4 linked regions of the Homo sapiens genome follow. The protein of the gene in region 2 purifies or fractionates together with the protein of the main gene of each other region. This does not show direct contact. Each region holds a gene or a part of one and is shown on either strand. Other genes may lie near its edges.

Region 1 (7,201 bases), on a different chromosome or scaffold from region 2:
AGACTGACAGCAGTAAGCCAGCTGTCTTCCTCTCCCAGGGCCTTCCCTGTCCCTGCCCTCCACTAGGCAGAGCTGCTACCCCAGCAGGACTCAGGCTATGGGGAACACGGGGGTCAATTATCCAAAGTTAAAAACTGAAAAAGAAAAACCCCTCCGATTCTCTGCGAATAGGCTGTCTTTCTAGTTAGCTCTCTTATGAGACAACTAATCATTACTCAACAGAAAGATACAACTACCACTAAACCTCGTGCAAAGAAAAAAAGTTGAAGCTAGCAGTCTCCAAGAGTTTGTGGTTTTAAAAAAGAGAATAAAACAAAACATGCAAGTTTGAGTAAAACCAGGAAGACACATTTTCCATCATAGTTTGTGCCACGGCTGTGGTGCAACCTGGCTGTTGGCTGTTACCTGGGTGTAGGCTGGGTTAGGAGGCACATGGTGCGGCAGGGCTCAAATCTCACCACACAGCAGGATCACGGCTGGCTGGGTCCCATCCCACAGTTTCTGATTCAGTAGGTCTTGGGTGGGGCCCAAGAATTTCCATTTCTAATCAGTTTCCAGGCAAAGGGATGCTGCTGATCCAGGGACTACACTTAAGAACCACTGCTCTGGCCAGGCGCGGTGGCTCACGCCTGTAATCCCAGCACTTTGGGAGGCCAAGGCGGGCGGATCACGAGGTCAGGAGATTGAGAACATCCTGGCTAGCGCAGTGAAACCCTGTCTCTACTTAAAAAAAAAAAATTAGCCAGGTGTGGTGGCACGTGCCTGTAGTCCCAGCTACTCAAGAGGCTGAGGCAGGAGAATTGCTTGAACCCGGGAGGCGGAGGTTGCAGTGAGCCGAGATTGTGCCACTGCACTCTAGCCTGGGCTACAGAACGAGACTCCATCTCAAAAAAAAAAAAAAAAGATCCACTGCTCTACAAGTCTTTCATGGTAGTGTTTGACCTGCCTCAACTGCACATAAGTACCCATCTACACACAGACACACACACAGACACACACACACGGCAGTCAAGAGCCCCTGCCTCAATCACTGGTCCCTCAAACAGCCAGATCAACCAGATCTGCCCAACCAACTACAGACTGAACGCTCAGGGGTAGCTGCCCCTGAGAAAGCTGGTCCCACTGAAGTCCTATATGAGCCTGTCACTGCAAGAGGCTCTAAAGTCACACCCAAAACCCTTGAAATCCAAAGTCACAGCATTTCTCTTTTCTGAGAGCAGTCATGAGCAATCCCACCCTGCTGCACCCTTCACACATGGGTAACCCCAGCTGCAAGGTCCGCTTTCTGCCCCAGGATGCTTTCAAGTTTCTGAATCAGAAAAAGCAGCTGAAAGAGGAAGCCCAAAACAAAAAAATAAAAAAACAGGCCACTCAAAGAGAGGTAACTACAGCCCACAGCATCCCTGGTAGGGGGCATGTTCCCCAATCTCAAGAACCCCATCGCCCCACCATAGGCAACTCCACCAGCCTCTCACTCACCAAAGTAATCAGCCTTCGGGTGAGCATCCATCTCTCGCTCCAGACGTTGGGTGAGGGCTTCTAATTTCAACTCAGCAGCAGAGGGTCTCAGCTCAGGACCTGGGACGAGGGGCTGGCAGGGCAGCCTTACCCTAGGGGAGCTGGGGCTGTCCAGGAGCACAGATCCCAGGCTACCATCAGAAGACCAGCCCAGGGGACCCTCTTTACAAGATAACTCAGGCAGGGTGGACATCACTGGATGGACAAGACTGGTGGGGCTGAGCTTGGGACCAGTGCCAAGGTCTGTGCAGCCAGGCTTCGGCCCCAGCCCAGGGACCGCACCCTGCTGTGAACCGTCCAGACCAGCTGGCGAGGATGACGGGGCAGAACTGGAAAGGTAAGATTTGGGCCCATCCTGGAACCAGGGTTGGGGGTCCACATTGGGTTTGGACATCACACCTGAAACCTCACCCCCCAGCCCCGAGTTTGATCTTGGAAGACCTCCTTGCCTGGGGCAGCTCAGGGCCAAGGGTGCTGACACAGAAGGGGTCCTGGGCTGAACAGGCCCCACAGCTGGTGCTCCGTTCTCCAAGTTTGGGGAAGGCAGGCCAGGGCTCACCCGCTGGGAGGAGGCAGTGGACCAAAGGCCTGTTGGCTTCTCGCTGCTGCGGCCACCAATGCCACTATTCTGACCACCGAGGCTACCCTCAGAAGACCTGCTGGAGCTCAGGGAGAGCTGTCGGTGATTTAGGGGATGGTCCCCGCAGGGTTTGGGCAGTGGTGGGTCACTCCCCGGGGAGCTAGGCCACCCACTCCCTACACTCAGGCCGATGCTGGGGGACACTCCTGGTTTGTCACCCCACTTTGGGCTTGCCAAGGAGAGGTTGTCATAATAGTCTCCATGAGTGAGGCAGGAAGGATCCTCACAGGGGCCTGGCTGGTGGAAAGCAGACATCTCAGAAGTCGCCAGGCTCTCCCTGGAACCACAGTCCTGGCTGCCATGCCTCGTGCCATGCAGGTATGGCCTGGATCTCTGCTCCTGCGGTGGGTACGGGGGCTGCCCAGCAGCGAGGGTGGTGACTGCCCCAGGTGCCCCTGTCGAGGCAGCAAGAGGAGGCTTGGCAGCACCATCCACAGTCAGCTTGCTGCCCACAACTTCCCAACGGGCCTGTGGGCCCAGGCGGCCCCCTCCATTGACAGGGCCTCTACTCCCCCTGGGCAGAGTCTCCTCCTGCAGGAGCTGCTGCTGCTGCTGCTGGAGGTGGATTTTGGCCATCTTGGTGGCGAACACCCTGCGAGTTTCCTCAAACTCGGGGTTGTTGCCTGCACCCTTGTCCACTCGGAAGAGCCCATCCTTAGAGGCCTCATACATGTTCAGGTCCTCGATGAATTTACTGGCCTCCAGGCCCAGGTCGTCATACTTATCCATGCTGCAGACAGGTGTCCGGGCCTAGCCCAGGTGCCGTGTGTGTGTGTGTGTGTGTGTGTGTGTGTGTGTGTGTGTGTGTGTGTGTGTGTGTGTGTGTGTGTTGAGGGCAGCGGGGAGATGCTGGCGAAGGGTCGGGGCTCAAGTCCGGCCCAGTACAAGTAAAGACTTCCACCTGCCTAGCGTGAAGGGCATGACCCCAGGATTTAAGAGTCCAGCCGAAGTTGAGACCTCAACGCCAGCTGGACCAAGTTTGCTTCCAACTCCCTTTCCCCTGGAGACGTCCTTGTTGGGGTAGCTGGTGGCACTTCGCCGTCCCGGGCCTGCTCAGCGGAGTTCTTTTCTCCTCTTCAAATTATAAAAGGAAAAAGAAAACAGCAAAAAAGTAAAATCACATCCTCCTTAGGCAACCAAACACGGAAACTCACAGCAAGGCAGCAGCCGACTGGGCCGGGTGAAGCTGAATCGGCCGGGAGGGCGCCGAGGCCGCGAGTCGGGCCGGAGCAAACGCGCGGCGGCTGAGGCGCAGGTACGTTCCAGGCGCTGGGTCCTCCGCTGCTTCCCCGGAGCTGCGATCCCGGCCGGCGCCTGGCAGGAACGCCGTCCGGGACGCACGGGCGGCCGAGCAGCGGCAGGAAGTTCACGGCAGCTGGGGCTGGCGGCCCATTGTCCGATGGCGGCGGCGGATCGGCGCGCGCGGGCCGGAGGGCGGCGGGACGCGGAAGTGAGTGCGCCAGGCGCAGTCCCTGCTGCTCGCTCGCCGGCTCTGCACGTCCCGAGCCCGCGCCGGGGCGGAGGGGGCGGCCGAGGGGCGGGGACGGCGCGCGGGCGGGCGCCCAGGGGCAGGCCTGCACCCGGCAGCGTGGCTGGGCCTCCTGCCCCCAGGCCTGGCTGGAGAACACCGAGGGGTGCCCCACAAGTCCGTCCCACGCTCTAGCACTGGGACTGCACGGGACTTCGCCGCCGCCACTGCCGCCCCCTGCGAGTCCTGGACCGAATTGGGTGCTCCGACCTCCCTTCCAGCCTCGGGTCCTCAGCCCGGCCCCGCCCCTGGCAGCGCTGGGCGGGGTCCTCCGCTCGGAGACGGGCGGCCTGGGTAGCCTGCATGGGCCCAACACAGGCGCTGGGAGTTTGCGAGGACTTTCGAGGACGCCGCTCCTCGCTCCACTGCCTCAGTTTCCCCGGTGGAAAGCCAGCCCTTTGTGCCTCTCGAGGCCGGCACCGTCCAGGCTGTGCCCGCCGCCCGGCTTGCCCGAGGTGCACTATTGGAGAGGCGCACGGGCGTGTCACCCATGGCTGGCCCACCGTCCTCTTTGACAGGTCGGGAGACTGAGGCAGAGAGGGGGAAATGCCCAACATGCCAACGTAACCAGCAAAGCGTAGATGGGAGCCCGGGCCCTCTGAAAGAGCGAAAAAGAAGAAAGTCTCGTTGTGCCTGCGCGCATTTCACGTCCTCAGTGCAGCAGTAAAAGCACGTGCCCTAGTAGGCTCGTTATTCGTAGAGGGACCCATCTGCAAGTGGATCCGCGCGGCTGCAGGGACACCAGGCCTGACTCCTTGGCGCCCCCGCATGGCCCGGGACTCCCTATACCAGTTCCCAGGCGATCCTGGAGAGGTTTCATTTCCCACACTACAGCCATCGTGATCCTAAGGCAAATACTAGAACAGACACTTCTCTACCTAAATCCTCAGTGCTTACCCCAGAATTAAATTGAAATCGGCCCCTTGCCGCAGCCTTCTGGGCCAGATCTAGGGATCTTCCCTCCCTCCCTGCACTCTAGCTGCAGGAGCTTCCTGGTGTCTGCCCAGAGCTTGCCCCTAAACTGAGTGGCTCATCTTTCCCATCCCTGCTGAAGTCACCTCCTCTTAGAGGCCTCCTCAGAGTGGTTCCTGTTGTTCTTTTTCAGCACCCTCTTTACTTCCTGCTCAGTTCTGATAACTATTTATAATTATTTATTTGTTGGTTAACATGCGTTTTTTTTTGTTTGGTTGGGTGGTAGGTTTCCCACTCCATTTGACCATATCTGTATGCCAAGTGCCTGGTATATATTAATAGTAGTACCTAATGGTCGAATAAGTGAATTAGTGAACCCCTATCTGCCAGAGTTGTGACAGAGAACAAATAAGATAATATATATGAATGTGCTTTATATTCTGTAAACCAGGGGTCCCCAACCCCTGGGCTACTGACCAGTACTGGTCTGTGGCCTGTTAGGAACTGAGTGGCACAGCAGGAGGTGAGAGGAGGCAAGCCAGCGAAACTTCATCTGTATTTACAGCCACTCCCCATTACTGGCATTACCGCCTGAGCTTCACATCCTGTCAGATCAGCAGTGGCATTAGATTCTCAGAGGGGTGCACAAACCTTATTATGAACTACCCTCATGAGGAATGTAGGTTGCACGCTCCTTATGAGAATCTAATGCCCGATGATCTGAGGTGGAACAGTTTCATCCCGTCTGTGAAAAAATTGGCTTCTGTGAAACTGGTGCCAAAAAGATTGAGGACCGCTGCCGTAAACCCAAAGTATGGTTAATGGACTCCATATCACCAGGGAGCTTGTTGAAAATGCAGAATCTTAGGCCCCATTGCCAACCTACTGAATCAGAATCTGCATTTTAACAAGATTTCTGGGCGGTTTATTTGCACAATAAAGTTACAGAAGCACTGCTATAAAGCACTATACTAAAATGAAGTATTTTTATTAAAAAATTTTTTTTGGTTTTTTATCTACAAGTAATACATGTTTCTATAACAACTTTGAACAATACAGACATATATAAAGTTTTAAAAGTTGCCTACCATCCCCTTTCTCAGAGGTAATCATAATTAAACACTCCTTAGGTGTTGGGTAATACTTATTAATTAAAAACTGGATTTTGGAGTGGAAGACTGGCTCACTTTGCCTGACCTCCAAATATGGCAGTTGTAGCTGACAAAGTGCTAGGAATATATGGCCATCCCTCTGCAAAGTCCAGTAAGCTCAGAGCCAGCTTCCTGGGTTTTCAGTTTGGACAGCTGGGACCCTGGTGCAGGAGCCACAGACACCAACCAGTGCTCTTACATTTGTCTTCTCTTTTCATCCTATCTTGGTGATGGCAGCAGTGGTCCATCTGGAGCAGCCACTGCCATGATGCTAGCTGCAATGGCGAGGTGAGGCCGTGACTGCATGCTCCATAGAGCTGGTAGGAGCTAGGAACAGGCAGGAGCCCCACTCCCTTCTGAGTTGGTGGGGCGGGAGCCCTGCCTTCCCAGGCACAGCTGCATCCACCCAGCTGTGGCTGCAGACCTGGGCATCCCTGTGCTCCCGGGGACCTAGAAAGCCCCCCTACTCCCACAGGCTCAGAAGTGCCTGCTCCTGTTGCCTGGCCTCTCCTGGTGCCCATTCTGATTTTGGAGCAAAGTTGAAGCTGAGCCCAGATACTGTCACGACCCAGCTGGGGGTGCACGCACTCAGGGCAGCACTGACACACCAGTCCCCTGCCGCCTCGGCCCCCTCCAGACTTTGGGTGCCGATGAGCATGGGAGGGAGGCCAGGGTGAGGCTGAGGGCAGTTCGGCATGTACCTGCAGGCACCCCTCAGCATGAACAGCCTGGGTGCCATGGGTGCCATGGCCAGCAGGTTGATGGCAGCAGGGGGCAATCAGGCTCCTGGGTGAAATGGGATGGGTCCCCAGTGAAGCCCCCTTCAAGACAGGGACAGCCTGAAACCTAGGGGCTGAGCTATCAGTCCTGCAGACTGGAGTGAGAATTTATGGTGCTTTTCCTGGGCCTGCCTATGGCTGCCGGTGGACCAATCAGCACACACTTCCTCCCTTCTGAAGTCCATAAAAAAAACCAGACTCAGCCAGACTCAGGCAGACAATGGGATGACCTGCCTGCAGATAGGAGCTACCCACTCTGGGTCTCTCTGCTGAAGGCTGCAGAGACATCGGGGCAACCTGCCTGTGGAAGGCAGCTACCCACTGTGGGTCTCTTCTCCACTGAGAGCTGGACACTCATCGGGACAACCTGCCTGAGGAAAGGAGATACCCACTGAGAACAGTTCTGCCACTCAGTGAGGCTCCTTTCTGCCTTGCTCACCCTCCAGTTGTCTGCATACTTCATTCTTTGTGGACACAGGACAAGAACTTGGGACCCACTGGGCAAATGGTGGCACTAAAAGATCTGTAACACAAACAGGACTGAAACACACCCCTTGCTTGCCACGTTGTGGGCAACGAGAAGGAGAGAAGAGAGAAGGAGAAAAGAGAGAAGGAGAGAAAAGCTGCAGCCCTTTGGGGAGCCCAGACCTAGGAGCACCCCAATCCAGGGTTA
Region 2 (7,933 bases):
TCTCCTCATCCATCTCTTCTGCCTCCAGTGACTCCTGGAGATTACTGACATTGTACACAGTAACAGGGTGTCTCCTTTTGTTACCCCCAGAATGAGTCCTCTTCTGGCACTCCAGGCACAAGTTAATTTTGCAGGTCTGGCACCTCACTATTGCCCTCTGCCTAACACCTGGTAAATGCCCACTGAGACCCTTGCAGAGGTCACAGTAAGGGACATGGCCAGGTTTGAGTCTTATCCGCTCATGGTTTCTCAGGCGCTCCTGCCGATGGAGCTCCTCCTCGCAGCGGAGACACTGCAGACTGCAGCACTCATCACACTCAAAGATAGCTTCATCAGTCCCGCTGCAAGCGTAACTTTCCTGGCACATCAGCCCCGGATTCAGGCCCTTCTCTGCTGGGGAAGTCTGGGCACTCATACTCACGCTGGTAAGGAAACACACCCACCATATAATAGTCACTGAGCTTGCCCCGGGGGTGAAGACGAAGATTTGAGTCTGAAGACTGCACGAAACTTCCACAGGGTTCTGAACACTTTAAAAAAGAACACCTTTCATGTCCTGTTATAGTTCTTCACAAACAAATGTTCAAATTTTTAATTTGCTGCCTCTAAGACTCTTGTATTAGCAGCAACGTTGATTTGGTTTGATGGTTTCATCCTCCATAAAGTGCAAGCAAAGATGTGGTCAAAATTGACTTGGAAGGGTCTTTTATGGCTATCTGAGAGAGGTCTGATGGGTTCACGGTGGTGGGTTCATCGGTTGGACATCAGCTACAAAGTTTTGGTAATGAAAGAAAGTGGTCAGGAGCTTTTCAATATAATTCGACCTGAAGTCAGTATTTCAGGGGATACCTAGAATAGAGGAAGGAAAAGGATTTCACTCATCTAAAAAACAGAAGTGCACCTTTAAAAAAATTTTTTTTGACTAAATTAAATATTAGCCCAGAACTGCTGAGAGAAATCTCATTCCTCTTTTTTTTCTTTTTTTTTTTTTTGAGACAGAGTTTTGCTCTTGCTGCCCAAGCTGGAGTGCAATGGGACAGTCTCGGCTCACTGCAACCTCCGCCTCCCGGGTTCAAGCGATTCTCCTGCCTCAGCCTCCCAAGGAGCTGGGATTACACGCGCTAGCCACAATGCCCAGCTAATTTTTGTATTTTTAGTAGAGACGGGGTTTCACCATGTTGGCCAGGCTGGTCTTGAACTCTTGACCCCAGGTGATCTGCCCGCCTTGGCCTCCCAAAGTGCTGGGATTACAGGCGTGAGTCACCGCACCTGGCCAGAAATCTCATTTTCTATCTTAACACTTACACTGGCTTGTTGTATAGCCAGGCGCAGTGGCTCACACCTGTAATTCCATCACTTTGGGAGGCCGAGGTGGGCAGATCACTTGAGGTCAGGAGTTCGAGACTACCCTGTCCAACATGGTGAAATCCCATCTCTACTAAAAATACAAATATTAGCTGGGCATGGTGGCAGGCACGTGTAATCCAAGCTACTAGGGAGGCTGAGGCAGGAGAATCACTTGAACCCAGGAGGCGGAGGTTGCAGTGAGCCAAGATCTTGCCACTGCACTCCAGCCTGGAAGACAGGGCAAGACTCCCTCAAAAAAAAAAAAAAAAAAAAAAATCTCAAAATTGTGGCTAAAGCTCCTCCTCTTGACAACAAACGCCACCTCTAGGCCCAAGGCATTTAAGAGACTTTGCTGCTCTATTTCCCAGACTGGAATTTTCTGTTCATTCAGATATTAAATTCAGAATCTAAATCACTAAGTGAGTAGTCCTTGGAAGGACAGCCCTCTGCACCCCCACATGCATCCCACAATTGGGAGGAGTGGAGAGGCCTTCACAAAGCTAATGAAAATGTAATAATAAACTTTAGATCTATCAAATACCTGGGCCGACCTGGTTAGCCTTGTAACTGGATTGTTTCAACTCTAGCTAGATGTATATTAAAGACTCAAAACTTAGAAACAATAGTAACAATTTCATCTTTAAAAACAATTTTTTTACACTGTAATTCTTCTGTCCCTTCTTTCACTAACTGAAAAAAAAAAAAAAAAGGAGCAACAGGAGACAATTCCTCTACTTTGACCCATGGCAAAGCCAGGCCTGCAGTGAATCAAAACAAATAATTTTTCTCTTTGTCACTTAAAAACTAACTTAAAAATAACTTCAAAATACGAAAAAAGATAACTGGGGCAAGAAAGGGGCTTTTGTCACTTTGACAATTATATTCCTAATTCCCCCTAGCCTTGACCCGCATTCCAAGGCCCCGACAAGGTGTAAAGCCCTGCCTTTCTGATAGTCACTCCTCCCCTACAGTAATCAATCTATCAACCTTATTTTCAGATAAACAAGGAAGGCGAAGGGAGTGACTAGGGGATCTTATTTACTACAATCTAACCTCAGACATGCCCAGCCAGCTCCCAAAACAGAAACAAAAATCAAACTTGTCACAATTGAGAAAAATATAAAATCAACCTTCAAAAGTACACCTCACGCCCGGCCATGTCAACCAAACATTTTGCCCACTCGGGCCCCCACCTCGACACCTCTCCCCAGCCGGGGGTTCCTCACCCTTCCTTCCACCCGGACACCACCGCCACAACCCGAGGGGCAGGAGCGGAGCCTAAGAACAAAGAAGGTCCCCCAAAATCCCCCCCACGCCGGCAAAACCCGGAGCCGAATCCATTGTTTATACCACCCCACCCCCACCCCCGCCGCACCCGCCCCCCCTTCCTCCCGAGGGCAGCCTGAGCCCCAGGACGATCACTCGCCCCGCGCTGGGCCGTGCCCTCCCCGCCCTGCCCTGCCCGCCGCGGCCCGGGGATCCCACCACTGAGAAGCTCGGCCGCAGCAAGGCGGCGTCGGGGGGCCGCAGGGCGCCAGTGGGGGCAGAGGCTATTCCTCAGGACACCGGCAGATCCATCCTCATCTCCATCTCCGCCACCCTCCTCCTTCGTTGCCTCCCGGGCTTCCTCCTCTCCTGTTGTCAGTTGGGATCAGCTGATCGGAGTGAACTTCTCCCAGCTCGGACTAACAGGAAGGCGTGAGCGGTGCAGCCCAGAAAGGGAGGAGCGAGAGAGGGAGGATCCCGGCGCCAGCAAGGGCGTAGTGCGCACTGCCTCCTGGGAGATGTAGCTCCTCGAGGCGCGCTCTCGCCCCTCATCCCGGAAAGGAAGACTCTGAATGACTACAACTCCCAGTACTGAAGAGGCTGCTCTTGCGAGGAGGCGGTGGGGACAGGCTACGGAGGATTTCGGGACTTGGAGTTTTTGCATTGAGTGTGGTGTCCGCAGGTTTCAGCACGTTCTTTTGGGTTGTAACTGGGGAAGGCATGGTGCTACATTAGAGAACTGATGTAATAATGTCTAGTATAAGTGGGAAATGGTGAGTCAATTAATTTGGATTCAAGTAACCTCTTGCACACCATTCCCTCAGAAACGTGTGAGCACAGACAGTCTCCACCTTCCCAATTTCACTTCGCAAAAACTAAGGAAAAGACCAGAAAAAGTGATAAGAGGATATAGGTACTCTTGGGAAGTTTTTGTTGTTTTTCCCCCCTTGGCAAAGGACAAAATTACAACGAATTTAGTTTTAAGATCTCAGTTGGCTTTATTGCGACTCTAGGATCAGGCAACACTTCATTCCAGAAAGTGGAGTGAATGTTCTGATGAGCTGAGCAGGAGAGGTTGGCTTTGTAGACAGAGAAAAGCTTGAGGAAGCAAAAGCAAAGAACAAAGAGCATATTGGTTTCTTTCTTTCTCTTTCTTGTCATTCTTTTCTTTCCTCTTTCTTCTCTTTTTTTCAGTCTTCTCATGGGACCTTGACATATTGGTCACTTCTAAGCTACTTTCCTTGGAAGGTGAGGACAGAGAGACAGAACAATAGAAAAATAACTGATTAGTTGACATCAGTTACTTCAGGCTACTTCTTTTGTGTAAGGATTACAACAGAGGGAGCTTCATTATCATGCAACATTAAAACAAGCCTGTTTGGGAAACTGGCTGTCCTTATCCCTCTTTCCTGATTTCTCTGAAGGTCAGATAACAACTTAGCTTGGGTTTGGTAACAACTTAGTTTGGATTTGGTGAGGTGAAACTTTAGCATGGGTGACTCCATTTTTATTTTAGCCAGGTCTATTGGGGCCTGGTGCAGGAGTTTAGTCCAAAACAAAGGCCTCCTATCATTTTTACTTAACACCCTTCAAGGGTATTCTCCAAGCCAACCATGAATTTTTTTTCCTACCTATTATTTTTCTGATCTTTCCTTCTATAGTTTCAGAACTTCTCAGGCTGGGCGCGGTAGCGCATGCCTGTAATCCCAGCACTTTGGGAGGTCGAGGTGGACGGATCACCTGAGGTCGGGCGTTCGAGACCAGCCTGACCAACATGGAGAAACTCCATCTCTACTAACAGATACAAAATTAGCCGGGCGTGATGATGCATGCCTGTAATCCCAGCTACTCGGTAGGCTGAGGCAGGAGAATTGCTTGAACCTGGGAGGCAGAGGTTGCAGTAAGCCGAGATCACGCCATGGCACTCCAGCCTGGGCAACAAGAGGGAAACTCTGTCTCAAAAAAAAAAAAAAAAAAAAGCTATTATACTTTCAGAACTTCTCAATTTGAAATTATCTTTGAGGGCCAGGCACGGTGGCTCATGCCTGTAATCCCAGCACTTTGGGAGGCCAAGGAGAGCGGATCATGAGCTCAGGAGTTCAAGACCAGCATGGCCAACATAGTGAAACCTCATCTCTACTAAAAATACAAAACATTAGCTGGGTGTGGTGGTGTGCACCTGTAATCCCAGCTACTCGGGAGGCTGAGGCAGGAGAATCACATGAACCCGGGAGGCAGAGGTTGCAGTGAGCCAAGATCGCACCATTGCACTCCAGCCTGGGCAACAGTGCAAGACTCTGTCTCAAACAAGAAAAAAAAAAAAAGAAAGAAATTTTCTTTGCGTTAGATGGGCTAAATTTTCAGATAAGTTTTCAGGCTACAGTGCAGGCTAATGGTTAACATTTATCAGGCTTTTTTTTCTTTTTTTATGGCCTTATATTTGTTTAGTGCTTTCACTTTTTGTTTGTTTCTTGAAACAACATTGAAAGAAAGCCTGAGTCTGTGTTGCCAAAGATTGACTGCTTGCTCTAGAAAAGCTCCTGAAGGCCTGGTGTGGTTGTTCCTGTGTGTAATCTCAACACTTTGGGAGGCCAAGGCACGCAGAGCACTTGAGGTCCTGGCCAACATGGTGAAACCATGACTATACTAAAAATACAAAAAATTAGCTGGGAATGGTGGCATGTGCCTGTAATCCCAGCTACTCTGGAGGCTGAGGCAGGAAAATCACTTGAACCCCAGAGGCAGAGGTTCCAGTGAGCCAAGATTGTGCCACTGCACTCCAGCCTGGGCAATGGAGCAAAACTCCATCTCAAAAAAAAAAAAAAAAAAAAAAGAGGCTGGGCGCAGTGGCTCACGCCTGTAATCCTAACACTTTGGGAGGCTGAGGCGGGTGGATTGCCTGAGCTCAGGAGTTCAAGACCAGCCTGGGCAACATGGTAAAAACCCATCTCTACTAAAACACACACACACACAAAAAATTAGCCAGGCATGGCGGCGTGCACCTGTAATCCCAGCAACTAGAGGGACTGAGACAAGAGAATCACTTGAACCCGGGGGTTGGAGGTTGCAGTGAGCCGAGATCGTGCCATTGCACTCCAGCCTGGGTGACAGAGTGAGAGACTCCATCTCAAAAAAAAAAAAAAGAAAGAAAGAAAGAAAACGTCCTGACTATACAGGTGGTTGGGTAAGTCACTCAACCTCTCCACAAAATAGAAATTGTAATTAATGAAGTCCCTGCCAATTCCAACATACTATGATTCTATCTTGATAATTGTTAACCCAGAAGAGAAAACTAAGATTAAGTGACTTGCCAGGGTTACACAACAAATTATTGACAAATCTGGGACAAGACTGTATCTGCTGACTTGAAGTCCAATACTTTTTACCTTATGATTCCAGGGACATAAGTAAACCACTAGCAAAATCAAATCTACATAATAATGACCCATATATGAGGATTAAATTGCTGAAAATTATATTTTCAATATTGGGCAGAGAGCCAATGGTTGGATTATGAAACATGGCTGAGAAATTGTTTTCTAAAAACAACTTCTAGGGCCGGGCGCAGTGGCTCATGCCCGTAATCCCAGCACTTTGGGAGGCCGAGGCAGGTGGATCACGAGGTCAAGAGTTCAAGACCAGCCTGGCCAAGATGGCAAAACCCTGGCTCTACTAAAAATACAAAAATTAGCCGGGCCTGGTGGCGGGCGCCTGTAATCCCAGCTACTCAGGAGGCTGAGACAGGGAATTGCTTGAACCCAGAAGGCAGAGGTTGCAGTGAGCCAAGATCGCACCACTGCCCTACAGCCTGGGTGACAGAGTGAGACTCCGTCTCAAAAAAAAAGAATAAACATTAAAAAATTTCTGGGCCGGGCACAGTGGCTCACGCCTGTAATCCCAGAACTTTGGGAGGCCGAGGCGGGCAGATCACAACGTCAGGAGTTTGAAACCAGCCTGGCCAATATGGTGAAACCCCATCTCTACTAAAAATACAAAAAGTCAGCCGAGTGTGTTGGCATGCGCCTGTAATCCCAGCTACTCAGGAGGCTGAGGCAGGAAAATTGCTTGAACCCAGGAGGCAGAGGTTGCAGTGAGCTGAGATGGTGCCATTGGACTTCAGATAGGACTACCCCTATAGTAACTTGGAGCCATAATAGTTTCCTTGGCTGGGCACAGTGGCTCACACCAGTAATCCCAGCAATTTGGGAGGCCAAGGTGGTCAAATAACTTGAGGTCAGGAGTTCAAGACCAGCATGGCCAACATGGCAAAATCCAGTCTCTACTAAAAATACAAAAGTTAGCCAGGTGTGGTGGCACCTGCTTGTAATGCCAGCTACTCGGGAGGGTGAGGTATAAGAATCACTTAAGCCTGGGAGGCAGAAGTTGCAGTAAGCCGAGATCGCACCATTGCACTCCAGTCTGGGTGACAGAGGGAAACTCTGTCTAAAAAAAAAAAAGTTTCCTTTAGCCAGGCACGGTGGTGGTGCATGTCTGTAATCCCAGCCACTCTGGAGACTGAGACCTGAGGATCCTTTGAGCCCAGGAGTTCCAGAAGAGCATGGGCAATATAGTGAGAACCCTCCCCCACATCTCTTTTCCGTCTTCCTAAAAATAAAGAAAATAAAATGATGGGAAAAACAGCAAACACAACCCTGCCTTCTGGATGTAAATATTTTTTTTTTTTGAGACAGAGTCTCACTCCGTTGCCCAGGCTGGAGTGCAGAGGCATGATCTTGGCTCACTGCAACCTCTGCCTCCCAGGTTCAAGCAATTCTCCTGCCTCAGCCTCGCAAATAGCTGGGACTACAGGCATGCGCCACTACATCTGGGATGTAAATCTATTTGGAATGTGTAACACATGACCATAGGGACGTGGTGTTTGTATAGATAGAACCTTTGGGTCTGGTGTGGTGGCAGGTGCCTATAACCCCAACTACTGGAGAGGCTGATGTGGGAGGATCACTGGAGCCCAGGGGTTCAAGACCAACCTGGGCAAGATAGACCCCTATCTAAAAAAATAAAAATAAAAATAAAAACCTCACTTGCAGCCAGGTGCAGTGGCTCACGCCTGTAATCTCAACACTTTGGGAGGCCAAGGCAGGTGGATCACCTGAGGTCAGGAGTTCGAGACCAGCCTGACCAACATGGTGAAACCCCATCTCTACTAAAAATACAAAAAATTAGCCAGGTGTGGTGGCAGCCACCAGTAATCTCAGCTACTTGGGAGGCTGAGGTAGGAGAATCGCTTGAACCTGGGAGGCGGAGGTTGCAGTGAGCCAAGATTGTGCCATTGCACTCCAGCATGGGCAACAAGAGTGAA
Region 3 (7,020 bases), on a different chromosome or scaffold from region 2:
ACCTCCTGCCAGCCTGGCCTGTTGCTGGCAACAGTGACAAGCCCGTGGTGGGAGTTTTTTGGCCAAAAGGGTCCCTCAGCAGTTTTGTAAGCCTCCTTAAATTGCTTTCTCAACTGTAATCATTATCATTGTCATAACATAACTTATCACATGAATATGATGACCACTGAAATCCTTGTTCTAATTAACTAAATCATTGCTCTAAATATTAGTCATTGGTACTCAAACTTACTGCAGCCACTGAAAAAGCCCCCAGATATTTTTCTCCACTTCGTTCTGCCTACCCACGTCCCACTGCTGGATTAAACAATAGAATTATTCAGAAACATAATGAACACATGCCAAAAATATTGCCTCTATCACAATCATCTTTGTGAAAGTCAATGTTTTTTCTCAGGAATATATTTTGGAAAATGACATCCCACACTTAAACACGATCATCTCTGCTGAAATCCCCACATTTGATTTCATGTACATTTCATGCCCATTTCTATAGTTACTGCCTTCCTATTGTTCTGAAACCTGGTTTGGTATTGCAGAGTAAAAGTCCTTAAATCTCGTATACATTAATACGTAAGTTTATAAATTCAAATTTATAAAAGACTCTAGTTTATTGATGAATATTTCTACATTTTAATTTTCTGTGCGAGGTTAAACCTGACTCTGACACAATAAGATTATTCTGATTAAATACAAATTATGGAAATTACAGTTTCAATTACATTCTAGTTTTGAATGAAGCCTTTTAAAAAACAAAATTGAAAAAAAAAATTGCACATTTTCAGTTACTGAACTTTGAGAAAATGTTAACTGGTATATGATGGCTCAGGATGCTTTTTCCTCCTTTTTTCCCCAGTGAATAGAAAGAGAATTATTTGGAATGTACACACACTTACCCTTTCATGACCTGTGTTTGGAATTATTCTGAGATGCATTCAAAGCTGACACCCCCCTATGGTTGACCTCCCTGTGCCTAATCAAATCTTACATTCTTGTTTCCAGATAGCTGATCAGCTTCCTTGGGTTTTGCTGATGACACAAGAGAGCTTTGCCTGAAGATGGAAACACTGGAGTCAGAACTGACCTGCCCTATTTGTCTGGAGCTCTTTGAGGACCCTCTTCTACTGCCCTGCGCACACAGCCTCTGCTTCAACTGCGCCCACCGCATCCTAGTATCACACTGTGCCACCAACGAGTCTGTGGAGTCCATCACCGCCTTCCAGTGCCCCACCTGCCGGCATGTCATCACCCTCAGCCAGCGAGGTCTAGACGGGCTCAAGCGCAACGTCACCCTACAGAACATCATCGACAGGTTCCAGAAAGCATCAGTGAGCGGGCCCAACTCTCCCAGCGAGACCCGTCGGGAGCGGGCCTTTGACGCCAACACCATGACCTCCGCCGAGAAGGTCCTCTGCCAGTTTTGTGACCAGGATCCTGCCCAGGACGCTGTGAAGACCTGTGTCACTTGTGAAGTATCCTACTGTGACGAGTGCCTGAAAGCCACTCACCCGAATAAGAAGCCCTTTACAGGCCATCGTCTGATTGAGCCAATTCCGGACTCTCACATCCGGGGGCTGATGTGCTTGGAGCATGAGGATGAGAAGGTGAATATGTACTGTGTGACCGATGACCAGTTAATCTGTGCCTTGTGTAAACTGGTTGGGCGGCACCGCGATCATCAGGTGGCAGCTTTGAGTGAGCGCTATGACAAATTGAAGGTTAGTCCGATCCGCCTTAAGCCAACCCCTTTCTGCCAGAAAATGTCATGGAAATAAAAAGTGTATTCACTGCTAGCTACATGGCAGGTGAAGGTTTTCTCCTCACCTTTGTTATCTGATTAGTTTTAGCATGTTTTTGGCAACCTATAAATGTTACACAATAAGGGTATCTTGTAAAAGTTGACTGCTGCTTGTAATTTTAGCGTTGTCAAGGTGAGGGCAAATTCTAAAAATCTGGATCATTTTCAATCCATGCAGTTTTTCTGGATCATTTTCAATCCTTACAGTTCTTCCAAAGAGAGTGCTGCCTCTCTCTGAGAGAGAGGGAGAGAGAGAGAGAGAGAGAGAGAGAGAGGGAGAGAGAGGGAGAGAGAGGGAGAGAGAGAGAGAATGACAGATAAAATCTGGCTTTGGGCATTTGGGGAACACTTACTTTTCTCACTCATCTGGGAAAACTAATTCACTCTCATTGTACCTGTATCTAGTTACTGCACAAACAAAAGAATAGAGGGAAGAATGTCTGTAGCAAATGTGGGATTTTAGAGGACACGTGACCTTTTATTCCTTGTATAAACGATATCCAGCTTATTGGTGAAATTCAGTGCTCTGACAATCTCAGGTTTCACGAAAGAATTCCTTTTCGTGTAGGCTCTTTATTCAGTAAGGTTACAGTCAAGACTATTTGAACTTCATTTTTTACATGAAATTATTAACCTAACTCCAGCTTGGGGGATAATGATTAATATGACTATATGTGAAATAAAAGGATCACTTTCTAGGCAGGGCGTGGTGGCTCATGCCTGTAATCCCAGCACTTTGGGAGGCCGAGGAGAGTGAATCACTTGAGGTCAGCAGTTCAAAACCATCCTGGCCAACATGGTGGAACCCCATCTCTACTAAAAATAAAAAAATTAGCCGGGTGTGGTGGTGGGTGCCTGTAATCCCAGCTACTCGGGAGGCTGAGGCAGGAGAATCACTTGACCCTGGGGGGTGGATGTTGCAGTGACCCAAGATCGCGCCACTGCGCTCCAGCCTGGGTGAAAGAGCGAGACTCTCTCTCAAAAAAAAAAAAAAAAAAAATCACTCTCTAAGTATGGATAGAAAGCACTAGGGAAGAAATAATAAGCCAAGTCTCCACATGTTTGTTCAATTTCAGGCAACAGTGGGTCTAATTATTGAAAACTCAGCTGAGAGAGTTTGAGTGAGATACTATGTTCATCAGCTAATTTTAGATCACAAGACACCAATTAAAAGAAAGGAAGTATAAATTAAAAGCTCTAAGTAAATATATATTGAAGTCCTTCCTCTCAGGAAAAACACATACCATGTTGTTGAGCAAACAAAATGAATCACATGATCAAAAGAGTGTTATCACTTAGAAAACAGTGTCACCTTTAACAAATGGTTTCTATCACCTCTCCTTAGCGCTAATGGGTGGTTGTGTTTACTGGGACCACATAGTTTATTCTGTGACAGTGGGATTAACGGACCACATCTGGGATTTGGCTTTGCTATTTCTTGACATGTTGAGGGAAGCCGACATGCTGAAGTCAATTCCTGCTTCTCAATGTCACTTGGGCAACAAAAGCATCACCTGGGCAGCATGTTTCACTTCAAGTATCCAAAGAATTACTGGTGCAAATCCATCTTTAAACCATGTAGAGGAAGTCAAGCACAAGGACTCAGGTGACACAGACAACAGAAGACAGCCGCTGACAGGCTTTCCAGAACAGTGCATGGCAGCACAGGAGAAAAGTACCACCAAAGTTAATCATAGCAAAGGCAATGCATGTATGAGCTGTGCCTCTAGAGCAAATTCTGAAGAAATTGCGAAGGCTATTAATTTTTACAAACCAAGGTAATCTTTTTTTTTTTTTTTTTTTTTACCCCTTTTTTGGTTGGTGGTGGAGCTGAAGGGAGAATATTTAGGATAACTGAACAGAGATGTTTGATTTTTGTTTTCCAAAATGTAAACATGCCAGATCTTTGTTTCTTTATTAAAAATGTTCCTTTGATTGGATTTGCACTACCTTTTAATGATTGTTTGTTAAAACACCACAATCATAATGATGTTCAATATTTAACAACTCCCAGGCTTGATATTTATTTAAATCTTGTGGTCAGGTTCTGCTCAAGTACTCATGGCCTGTCACAGCAGAGTTATTAAATATTTACATAACATCTCCAAATTTATGAAGAATTCCTGTCATGCTCTAGCCCTCTTTGTGATAAAAACAAAACTCTTCAGTTACGAGCCCTGCACACTTTAATTGAGCCAGTGGCCTATCGGTTGTTCTACTGTCACATGGAGGGCCTGACAATTAATGATGTGGTTTCTTTTTATTTCCTAGTTACAGAAATATAAGCATATAAACAGCATCCAATGCACCGAAACACATTTACAGCCGTTCAATAAGATGTACTTATGAGCATTTGAACAAATAACTTATCGACATAGCATGTTTGTTTTAAAACATGCCACTTACGTTAGAATTTTAAAAATAATAATTATGACATTTGGATGTCTGATATTTCAGTTATCGCATACTTATGAACATATGTACATCCTTGTTTTATTTAAAACCTAAGCACAATATAAATGTTGATTTTTTTGAAGGAAGTAATAGCATACCAAGAGGACCAAAACCAAGGAAGTATATTTCTGTTAATTACTACTTTGGTCTGAAATGTGCTCTGAACATGCATTTTTCTGTAGCTCTAGGATCTCATATAGATGTGGATTTGTGATGATGTGAGAACACAGATAAAGCATGGAGGAATTTGAGGATGCTTTCATTGATAAGACAATAGATTTGCTTTATTAATTTGCATATGTAAGGACCCTGGTGTCTTTGGAAACATTTTTGTCCTTCTGTTAGTAAAAGTTTATTACCTGAAGAAGGGAATTCTGCAATTATTATGAAGAATAATTTCTTGCAATAATACTAAACTTTGGGGGACATATTTTACTCATTAGATCTCAGTATAAGAGATGTTTGTTTATACAAAAAATCAGAATATCATTTTGTACATTACAATCTTTTTCTAAGTGTAAAAGAAAAAGAGATAAAAATTCTAACATGTTGAACTCGTACAAATAAAATCATCCACATCATGTAAAATAGCATCATGTCAGTAATCTAACGCTTTCGGAGACTATGCATTGAGAGGCACTCATGAAATATTGAAGCAAAGAGAAAATTAAGGTAGCATTTCCTGAACTCTACTAAGATAAAAAGAGAAAAGTTTTCCTGCCAAGTGCAAAGGTCTCTAAGTGGAGCGTATCCATAATGTGGATATTTCTTTACATCGTTTTAATTGAATTTTAAGAAGCCTCTCAGTCCTTCAAACTTGGAGGAAAAATTTGATTTGTGAACCACATAACATATAAGAGAATTTAATATAATTAATGCATTCCAGAGTTTTCAAGGAATTAAAATGCAGTAGTCCTCTTTTTCTGTTCCAACATACAAGGTTGGAGCTCTTGTTTCTTTTCTCTAATTATACCTATAAAAATATACAAATTGAAAAAAACTGACCTTTCCTTGCCTTTCAGTTTCAGCATAGCCCCTTCAAATTAGCTGAAGCTGAAGTTCCAAACTATTGTTTTGCTATTCTTATTCTAAAGGCTGGCTGAGGAAGTTTGTTTGTATAATGCATGTTTCAACGGATCATCCCATTGTAATTTTTTAATAGTTTGATTTAAAAGTTCAAATTAAAGCTCAGCATTTCTATGTAGCACTTTTTATCTGGAAGTGAAGACATGAGATTTCATTCTTGGGTTTAATTTATAGATTGTAAGGTTCTATGTTTGAAAAATCTTTCCCAGTTTGCAACTAGGAAAGTTGTAAGTGTATACTGAGCTAGACTTCTTTTTATTATAATTTCTATAACTTGTTTCTTCTTTGAAAACCAGTAGCAGGCATAGTGCAGGTTCTAGTGCTATGGTGTGTGATGCACACACATACTTGCATATACATATACATACATGCATTTATTTATTTATTTAATATTATAATCTTCCTGAATCTAAGTTGGAGACAAATTCAAGTGACCAGTATTTTCATTAGGGATATTTCATTCTGCAGGCAAGAGATGACAACAAACATAGCAATAATAACTATATTCCCATCACTCAAAATATTTTACCTGTTCCTTGAATGTTTGGTAGATGGATACAAGTCAACTTTGGACTTGGTATATTTTTTGTGGGAAGAGTCTTATCTTGAAGGGGTTTTTTTTTGAAGTTACAAATATGTGTATTTTTTAAAATGTGTCTTTCTGTTTATTGGTTTCTAGTTTAAATCCCTTAAGATCAGGGCTCAAGACAATTGCATATGGTCTCACTTATGGATGCAGTATGCTTTAAGAAATATTAGAATAAGTTTATTGTATCTTCAAAATTTCCATGAGCTCATTAATGTTTTCAGTCTGTGTAATCAATTAATGACTAGGAGAGGTGCACTTAGGCCTTCCACTCAGAGAGTGAAATTTTCTTTTTTTTTTTTTTTTTTTTACTTTAAGTTCTGGGACACATGTGCAGATTTATTACATAAGTATACATGTGCCATGATGGTTTGCTGCACCTATCAACCCATCATCTAGGTTTTACACCCCACATGCATTAGGTATTTGTCCTAATGCTCTCCCCCGCTCGCCCCACAACCCTGACAGGCCCCAGTGTGTGATGTTCCCCTCCCTGTGTCCATGTGTTCTCATTGTTCAACTTCCACTTATGAGAGAGATCATGCGGTGTTTGGTTTTCTGTTTCTGTGTTACTTTGCTGAGAATGATGGGTTCCAGCTTCGTCCGTGTCCTTGCAAAGGACATGAATTCATTCTTTTTCAGGCCTGCATAGTATTACATGGTGTATATGTGCCACATTTTCTTTATCCAGTCTATCATTGGTGGGCATTTGGGTTGGTTCCAAGTCTTTGCTATTGTAAATAGTACTGCAATAAACATATGTGTGCATGTGTCTTTATAGCAGAATGCTCTATAATCCTTTGGGTATCTACCCGGTAATGGGATTGCTGGATCAAATGGTATTTCTGGTTCTAGATTTTTGAGGAATTGCCACACTGTCTTCCACAATGGTTGAACTAATTTACAACCACCAACAGTGTAAAAACATTCCTATTTCTCCACAGCCTCGCCAGCATCTGTTGTTTCCTGACTTTTTAATAATCGCCATTCTAACTGGCTTGAGATGGTATCTCATTGTGGTTTTGATTTGCATTTTCCTAATGACCAGTGATGATGAGCTTTTTTTCTTCATATGTTTGTTGGCTGCATAAATGTC
Region 4 (7,931 bases), on a different chromosome or scaffold from region 2:
CTCTCATACTTCCTCACAATCACTATTCCCTTTTCATCCCCCCAAGGTAACCATTGTCCTTACTTCTAACATCCTACAGTAATTTTGTCTGTTTGGGCTTACAGATAAATAGGATCATATAGTAAAAATGCTTGAGTCTGGCTTCTTCCACTTAACATTATGTTTGTGAGATTTGTCCACATTGTAGTTTGTAACTGTAGTTGATTTATTTTCTTTCTGTATAGTATGCTATGAAAACATAATCATATATTCACCCCTTCTGCTCTTACTGGACATTTGGGTTGTGTGCACTTTTGGGGTATCTCTAACAATGACATACACTCTTGTATCTAATTGCACATTCTTTTGGGGGCACATATGCATATACCTCTTTGAAACTATTTGGCCAAGGACAGGCTTAACATCTGTAGATACTACCAAATATTTTTCAGGGGCATAATTTGCAGTCCCATTAGCAGCATATAAATATCACAGTTTTCATTTTTCTACATCTTCTCCAACATCTAAATACAGATGAAGTATTTCTGATGAAAATTTGATGTTGGAATTGGGTAGTGCAGTAAATGCAAAATATATAACGAATTTCAAAGGCTTAGTTTAAAAAAGTAAAATCTCAATTATTTTTTAAAATTGAAGGCATGTTGAAATAATATTTTGGATGTATAGGGTTAAAAATTGCTAAAATAAATTTCACCTGCTTTTTTCACCCTTTTAATGTAGCTACAAGAAAATCCCAAATTATGTGTGGCTTACACAATAGTTCTAATTGGATAGTGCTGCTCTAACACCATCAATACCTAAATTAGTAGAAAACTAAAAAATATGCCTGTTAAAGTATGGATATGTTGGTTGCAAAAACTACAGAATACTCGTTAGAAAAGCTGAGTTAAGTGCTCTATTCCAGCAGAGAATATCCCAATTTAGATACAGATATTGAACACTTGTTCAATATTTGGATCTTTTTTTTTGCAAGACAAAATTGAATGCTAGTCACTTTATAATTTGTGCCTTCTAAAAGGGAAAACCTTAATCCTAAGTTTAAAATAAAATGTGCACTGACTACAGCATGGTAGTAGATTATTTTAGTAACAAGAGATTCAACAAGTCTTCTCGGCTAGTGCTTTAAATCGTATATGCCCTATTATAAAACCGGTGAAACCAGAAAGCAAACCGTCCTCCTCACACTGCCCAAAACAACTGCCAATAGAGCGCATACTCATATGTCAAAGCCAAAACGATGACAGAAGTTTGGTCTTCCTTTCAGCTAAATAGTGTTAACAGGTGGTGGCTGGGTGAAGGCAGGAGAGTGCCTGTTGCTGGCCTTAGGCCTCAGATAAATAAGGAAATGACTGAATGAACAATTTAAAACTACACACACTAGTCAGTGTAACTATCTAGTAAGTTAAATACGCCATGACATCTAATGATGGCCTCTGAGACAGAGAGCAGGCTAGAGCCGGAGCGTTTGACGTGATTACAGCAGAGTGGAGGCGGTTCCTTCCTGGCTATATTAGCTGAAACCCAAAGCAAATCTTGCCCCAGCACAAGGCACCCCTTTCTGCGCCTGTAGTGTGTCAGCTATGTGCATTTTCCTTCAGGATGAGCAAAAATATTTCGTCATCCTCCCCGCTCCTCAACAGCGCAGAAGATGCCGAAAAGCAATTACAGGACCTTACAGAGCTGCTCCGGGGGCCGCGGGAAACTTACCAGCATCCTGGAAAAGACAAAACCAGTGGGGTGCACTTGGCCTCTCCTGGCTGCAGGGTGTGGCCGCCCCCACCTTTCACCTTCCCATCCTTAGGAAGCAAAGTGACCCCTAAGCCTAGACAAAGCTCTCGAAAGCCCAAAGCCTCGGGCCCACCGGCCAGCTCCCCACCCCGCTGCTGGGCCGGACAGGTGTAGGGGAGGCGGACCCGCCCCGCAGCCGACTCACCCAGCTCCAGGGCCTGGTCGCACCTGAGCAGCGCGGCCTCCGGCTGCTGCTGGCGCTGCAGGCTCCGCGCCTGGCCTGCCAGCCTGCGCAGCCGGCACTCGGCCGGGAAGCACTTCTCCAGCAGGCCGCTCAGCACCACGTTCACGCGCCGCACCTGCGGCCGCGCGGGCCCTGGCTCCACGCAGCGCTTGCAGACTGTGAGCCCGCAGGGCAGCGTCACCGGCTTATGCAGCAGCCGCCGGCAGCGCGGGCAGCCGAGCAGGTCGCGGGGCGCGCGGGGCTCCGGGGCCGGCCCTCCCTCGCCGGGCGCCTCGGGCTCGCCGCCCGGGTTCTCCGCGGACAGCGGCCGGTCGCGCAGGCCCACGGCGCGCACCAGGCCGCCCGCCAGCTCTTCCAGCTCCTCCGGCCGCAGCGCCCCGAGCCGCGCGGCGCCGCGGAACGCGCCCAGGGCTTCGGGGAGGCGGCCGGCGCGGGCCAGCGCGTCCCCCAGCCTCAGGCACAGGCCGCGGTCCGGCTGCGCCAGCCCGGCTAGCATGGAGCGAAAGAGCTCGGCTGCCATCTCGTAGTCGCCCGCGCGGAAGGCCTCGTCGCCCTCCTCTAAGCGCTGGGCGATCGGCTCCGCGCGGTCGCAGCCAGGACACTGGGGCGGCGGCGGCGGCGGGACCGGCTCGGGGCTCATCACCGCGGGGCTGCGACGACGCGGGTCCGGAGCGAAGGCGCGGAGCAGGGAGGATGCGCTGCTGCTGGGAACTGGCCGGCGGGAGCGCGGTCTCAGCCCTCGCCAGCAGCCACGCGCGTCTGGGGGCGGCGCGCTGCGAGCGGCTGAGACCGCGGGCGGGGGCGGGCGCCTGGCTTGGGCAGCGTCCTCAGCGCGGTGTGGGCGGCGAGCCCCGCAGGGCTGCAATCGTTCCGGGGTGGGGGCCGGGACAGGCACCGCGGGCGCAATCTGAGCCCCTGCCCACGCGCAGCGGCCTCTCAGTCCCGCCGGCTTAGGTAACCCAGGTCGCTGCGGTAACGCAGTGACCGCGCTCCAGGTCCGCGTCTCTTGCGATGCTTCCCCCACTCGCCTGAGGGCTCCTGCGCGACTGCGCGCGCGTCCTCTGCCTGCCGCCTCCCCGCAGAGGTGCCGGGGCCCTGGGAGCAGGTGGCCTTGGCCGCGGGCTGCTGGCGCGCCGGCACCGCGGCACCTGCTCTTCCCCAGAGGCCTGGCCGCCCCCACAACCTGTGGCTCCGCTTAAGCAAGAACCCAGGAAAAGTCACCAAACGCATCACGCATCTCTAGCTTCGACTTAGGAAATTGTCCTAAATGACTGGGGAGGCTGAAGTGGGCACCCAGAGGCCCCGCCTCAGCGAGCTTCTTCTCTTAACTCTAGGCTGAGGCCTTTGAGAACTCATTTTAACAGAGAACGTGGAGGGCCAAGAGAACCAGATACCAGGAGGAGGAGGGATTCGAGAAGTGGACAATTGTATTGTGCCCTTGATTAGGAAGCAGAAATAGAATTAGAAATAGAATTCTAATTAATAGAATTAGAATAGAAATAGAAAGGGTGCCCTAGTATGGAGTACTGCAGACATAAGTTGCTGGGGAGAGGGAGCTAAACGCTCCGTTGGTGTACAAGCAAGGTTTAAATTAAAATCCTCTGTGCGTATTAACCGGGTTCATAATTTCTCCTATATAGCCTATGTATTTCTCCTATGTAGCCTGCTCCCTTCTTCCTGTCGTCACAGTATCTGTTTTATCCTGTGTATTTGAATACAATAAAATGCATTACAATATTCTAGAATTCATACTACTGTTCATATTTCAAGAATAAATTTTTTTAAAAAATTGGAGAGGTTTTTCTACATCTAAAACTGCTGGCTAAAGAAAATATACAATACCTCGACCACATCTGGCTTTGGGAAAGGAGAAATGCCTCATTAAGTGAGAGAACATTTTAGACCAGTTCCTAAAAGGGAAAAAGGGGCAATTTTTGGCCAGCCCTCTAGTTCTACAATAAACAAATGCAGAGTACCCACCTCCTTTTCCATGAAGGATTTCCCCCAGCTGTCTACCTAACTTAATTGATAACAGTGTACTGTTTGGGTCTCTTTTTCATTACTGAATTATTTCAAATTCACTTTTTCAATCACTGTTTGGATTTTTATCTGCTTTCTTTATAGAATAACAATTCACTTATATTTGAGGGTCATTTATCCATCAAATTCACAACCAACAATCAGGAAGCAATGGGGAAAAAGCTTCAGAGCACAGACCATACAGTAAAGATTGTGAAACCTTATGATCTCAGATCCTATTTGTTCTTATTTTAGACAAATATCTAGCAAGAGAACAGAAAGAAGCTTGCCGGAGGTATGCCTGCTGAGAGCCAGAAGTGTTTAAAGCAAAAATGTTAGTGTGTTGTGAGGTTTATAACACATAGAAATAAAATATATCACAAATATAACACAAAGGCAGGTAGAGGAGAAATGGCAGGATACTGTTGTAAGGTTCTAATGCTATATGTGAAATGGTATAATGTCACTTTAAGAAAGACTGTAATGAGTTAAGGATGTGTCCTCTAACCCTAAAGCAACCTCCTAAATAACACAAAGAGCTATAGTTTAAAAGCCTATAGAGATGAAATGAAATTGTTAAAAAAAACTCTATTAATCCAAAAGAAGGCATAAAAAGAGAGGAAGGAAACAATTAGATAAAACAAATAGAGAACAAATAGCAAGATGGCAGGTTTAAACCCAATTATATCGGTTAATGTTCATTAAATATTGTCTAAATACCATAATTAAAAGGCAAAGATTGTCAAAAGGAAGACCCAGATATATGCTGCCTACCAAAAAAGAACTTTTAAATATGAAAATACAAATAAGGTAAAGGTAAAAGGATGGAAAAAGATGTTCTAGTTAACTCTAAGCAAAATAAATCTAGAGTGACTATATTGATAGCTGACAAAGTCTATTACATAGCCAAGAACATTGCTAGGAGAAAGGACAGCCATTTCATAATGATAAAGGTGTTAGTTGGTCAAGAGGACATAATAGTCCTAACCGCGTGTGTTCCCAATAACAGAGCTTTCAAATATTTGAAGCAAAAACTGATAGAACTGTAAGGTGAAATAGGTAAATTAATAATTATAGTTGGATATTTAAATATCCCTTTTTCACCATAAAAAGAACAAGATCATGTCCTTTGTAAGGACATGGATGGAGCTGGAAGCCGTTATCCTCAGCAAACCAACACAGGAACAGAAAACCAGATGCTGCATATTCTCACTTATGAGTGGGAACTGAACAATGAGAACACATGGACACAGGGAGGGGAACAACACACACTGGGGCCTGTCGGCGGTGGGACCGAGGAAGGGAGAGCATGAAGAAAAATAAGTAATTCATGTGGGGCTTAAAACCTAGGTGATGGTTTGATAGGTGCAGTAAACCACCATGGCACACGTTTACCTATGTAACAAACCTTCACATCCTGCACGTGTACCCCAGAACTTAAAAATAAAACACCCCTCTTTCAACAATTAATACAAGTATACTGAAAATCAGTGAGGCTATAGAAGACTTGAGCAATTCTACAAACCAACTCAATCTGATTGATGTTTATAGAACACTCCACCCAACAATAGCAGAATACACATTCTTTCCAAGTGCACATGGGACATTTACCGATATAGAACATCTTAGAGCCATAAAACAAATCCCAATTTAAAAGTATTCCTTCTAGGGCACTGATACATCAATAAATTGGATCAAATTGAGGACTTCTGCTGTTTTAAAGACACTGCTAAGACATGCTACACACTAGGAGAAAATATTTGCCGATCACATAGCTGATAAAGTACGAACCAAAAATATATAAAGAAATCCAAGAACTCAATAAGAAAATACAGAACTGGATTAAAAAGTGAGTGGAAGATTTGAACAGTCATTTCATTACAGAAGACATATTGATGGCAAATAAGATGCTCAGCATTATGAGCCACTGGGGAAATGCAAATGAAACCCCAAGCAGTTAGTACTGCACACCTAGTGGAATGTCTGTGATTAAAAAGGCTGACCATGCTGAGTGCTGGCAAATACAGGGCATATGCAGAACTCTCACACATTGTCAGTGGGAGTGTACCATGGTGCAGCCACTTTGGACTACAGTTTCTTAAAATGTTAACTGTATACTTATCATATTAACCACCCATTCCACTTCTAGGTATTTATCCAAAAGAAATAAAAGCATATGTCCATTCAAACACTTCTACATGAACCTTCATAGCAGCTTTATTTGTAACAGCCCCAAGCTAGAAATAATTCAAATGTCTTTCAACGGGTGAATGAACAAATTATGATTTCTCTACACAATTGAAAACTACTCAGAAATAAAAAGGAATGAACTATTAATGTATCAAATAACATGTATGAAATTCAAAATAATTATGCTGAGTGAAATAATACAGCAAGATAGAGTACGTATGTATAAATTATTCTATTTATACAAAAATCTTAGGCTGGGTGCGGTGGCACATGCCTGTAATCCCAGCACTTTGAGAGACCAAAGCGGGCAGATTGCTTGAGCCCAGGAGTTCGAGACCAACCTGGGCAACATGGTGAAACCCCTTCTCTACTAAAATTACAAAAAATTAGCCAGGCATGACAGCACATGCCTATAGTCTCAGCTACTCAGGAGGCTGAGGTAGGAGGATCGCCTGAACCCAGGAGGTCAAGGCTGCAGTGAGCTATGATTGCACCACTGCAGCCTGGGCGACAGGAGTGAGACCCTGCCTCAAAAAAAAAAAAAAAAAATCTTGAAAGTATGAGTGAATCTACACTAATAGAATCTACACTACACATGAGTGGTCATGTGGGGATGGGAAGAGGGATTACAAAGATCCATGAGGAAACTTTTAGGGATGATGCATACATTTGTTACCTTGATTGTGGCGATGTTCTCATGGGTGTATTTGTGTGTCAGAACTTATCACAATGTATACTTTTTTATTACAAAAACCATTTTTTATAGAGATGGGGTTTCACTGTGTTGCCCAGGCTGGTCTCGAATTCCTGAGCTCAAGCGATCCATCTGCCTTAGCCTCCCAAAGTGCTGGGATTACACACATGAACCACTGCACCTGGCCTATATACTTTAAATATATGCATCTTATTGTATTGCAATTATACCTCATTGGGGCTGCTTTTAAATATGTGTCGATTTAAAGAGAGGTACTCAAAAATTAAAATTTTAAAAAATATATAGGATGCTTCTAAAGCTATATTTCACAGAAAACTATAGCCTTAAATGCTTGTGTTAAAAAATAATAAAAACTAAAAAGCAATGTGTTAAACATCTAATTCAAAAAGTTGGGGATTAAAAACCAACAGAATAAACCCCAAAAGTAGTAAGAAGACAAAGAGAAGAAACTAGTGAATAGTTCTTATCTTGGTAAAAAGAAGATACAGATATCAACTCAAAAGGTGAGAAAAAGGAGCAAACGGGCAACAAAATGAAACACTGTAAGAGGACAGAAATAAGTTAAAATGTATCAAAAATGTTAATAAATGTAAGAAGACTAAATTTACCAATTAATCACTGAATATATCAGATTGTAAAATAATCCAGTCCAACTATATGTTATTTTAAAGAGGTACACCTAAATTATGAAAACAGATGTAAGTTAACAATAAAAAGATGAAAAAAGATATATCAGGTAAATGCTAACAAAAATAAAGCTAGGATGGCTGTATTAATAGCAGATAAAATAGATTTTAAGGCAAAAAGCACCTAATGATACAAGGTTCAACTCACCGTGAATATACTAAATTCTAAGCGGCTATGAAATTAATAAGATTCTCAAAATGTATAAAGAAAAGAAATTGATGCAACTACTTGGGTAGACAAGAAGTGGTGAGTGAAAGTGAAATTTTACTCTTTTTAAAAGGATTTTTTTTTATAAAGCCCCTTTTTTTTATTTTTTATTTTTTGTTTTTTGAGACGGAGTCTTGCTCT

The links.
Region 1: the proteins of ZFYVE1 (region 2) and LIMD1 purify together in Homo sapiens (affinity purification with mass spectrometry; 2 studies listed by BioGRID and IntAct, with this or other methods). This does not show direct contact.
Region 3: the proteins of ZFYVE1 (region 2) and MID1 purify together in Homo sapiens (affinity purification with mass spectrometry; 2 studies listed by BioGRID and IntAct, with this or other methods). This does not show direct contact.
Region 4: the proteins of ZFYVE1 (region 2) and LONRF2 purify together in Homo sapiens (affinity purification with mass spectrometry; 2 studies listed by BioGRID and IntAct, with this or other methods). This does not show direct contact.

Annotation. Positions count from the first base shown.
Region 1 is NC_000003.12:45,590,566-45,597,766, reverse strand, and holds the start of LIMD1 (LIM domain-containing protein 1), read right to left. Parts: upstream 3,017-7,201; 5' UTR 2,888-3,016; coding exon 1,480-2,887; intron 1-1,479. UniProt on the Homo sapiens protein: Adapter or scaffold protein which participates in the assembly of numerous protein complexes and is involved in several cellular processes such as cell fate determination, cytoskeletal organization, repression of gene transcription, cell-cell adhesion, cell differentiation, proliferation and migration.
Region 2 is NC_000014.9:73,024,094-73,032,026, forward strand, and holds the start of ZFYVE1 (zinc finger FYVE domain-containing protein 1), read right to left. Parts: upstream 3,014-7,933; 5' UTR 2,833-3,013; intron 850-2,832; 5' UTR 416-849; coding exon 1-415. UniProt on the Homo sapiens protein: Plays a role in the formation of lipid droplets (LDs) which are storage organelles at the center of lipid and energy homeostasis. Regulates the morphology, size and distribution of LDs.
Region 3 is NC_000023.11:10,561,586-10,568,605, reverse strand, and holds part of MID1 (E3 ubiquitin-protein ligase Midline-1), read left to right. Parts: intron 1-1,002; 5' UTR 1,003-1,058; coding exon 1,059-1,718; intron 1,719-7,020. UniProt on the Homo sapiens protein: Has E3 ubiquitin ligase activity towards IGBP1, promoting its monoubiquitination, which results in deprotection of the catalytic subunit of protein phosphatase PP2A, and its subsequent degradation by polyubiquitination.
Region 4 is NC_000002.12:100,319,482-100,327,412, forward strand, and holds the start of LONRF2 (LON peptidase N-terminal domain and RING finger protein 2), read right to left. Parts: upstream 3,021-7,931; 5' UTR 2,613-3,020; coding exon 1,934-2,612; intron 1,901-1,933; exon of another isoform or gene 1,708-1,900; intron 1-1,707.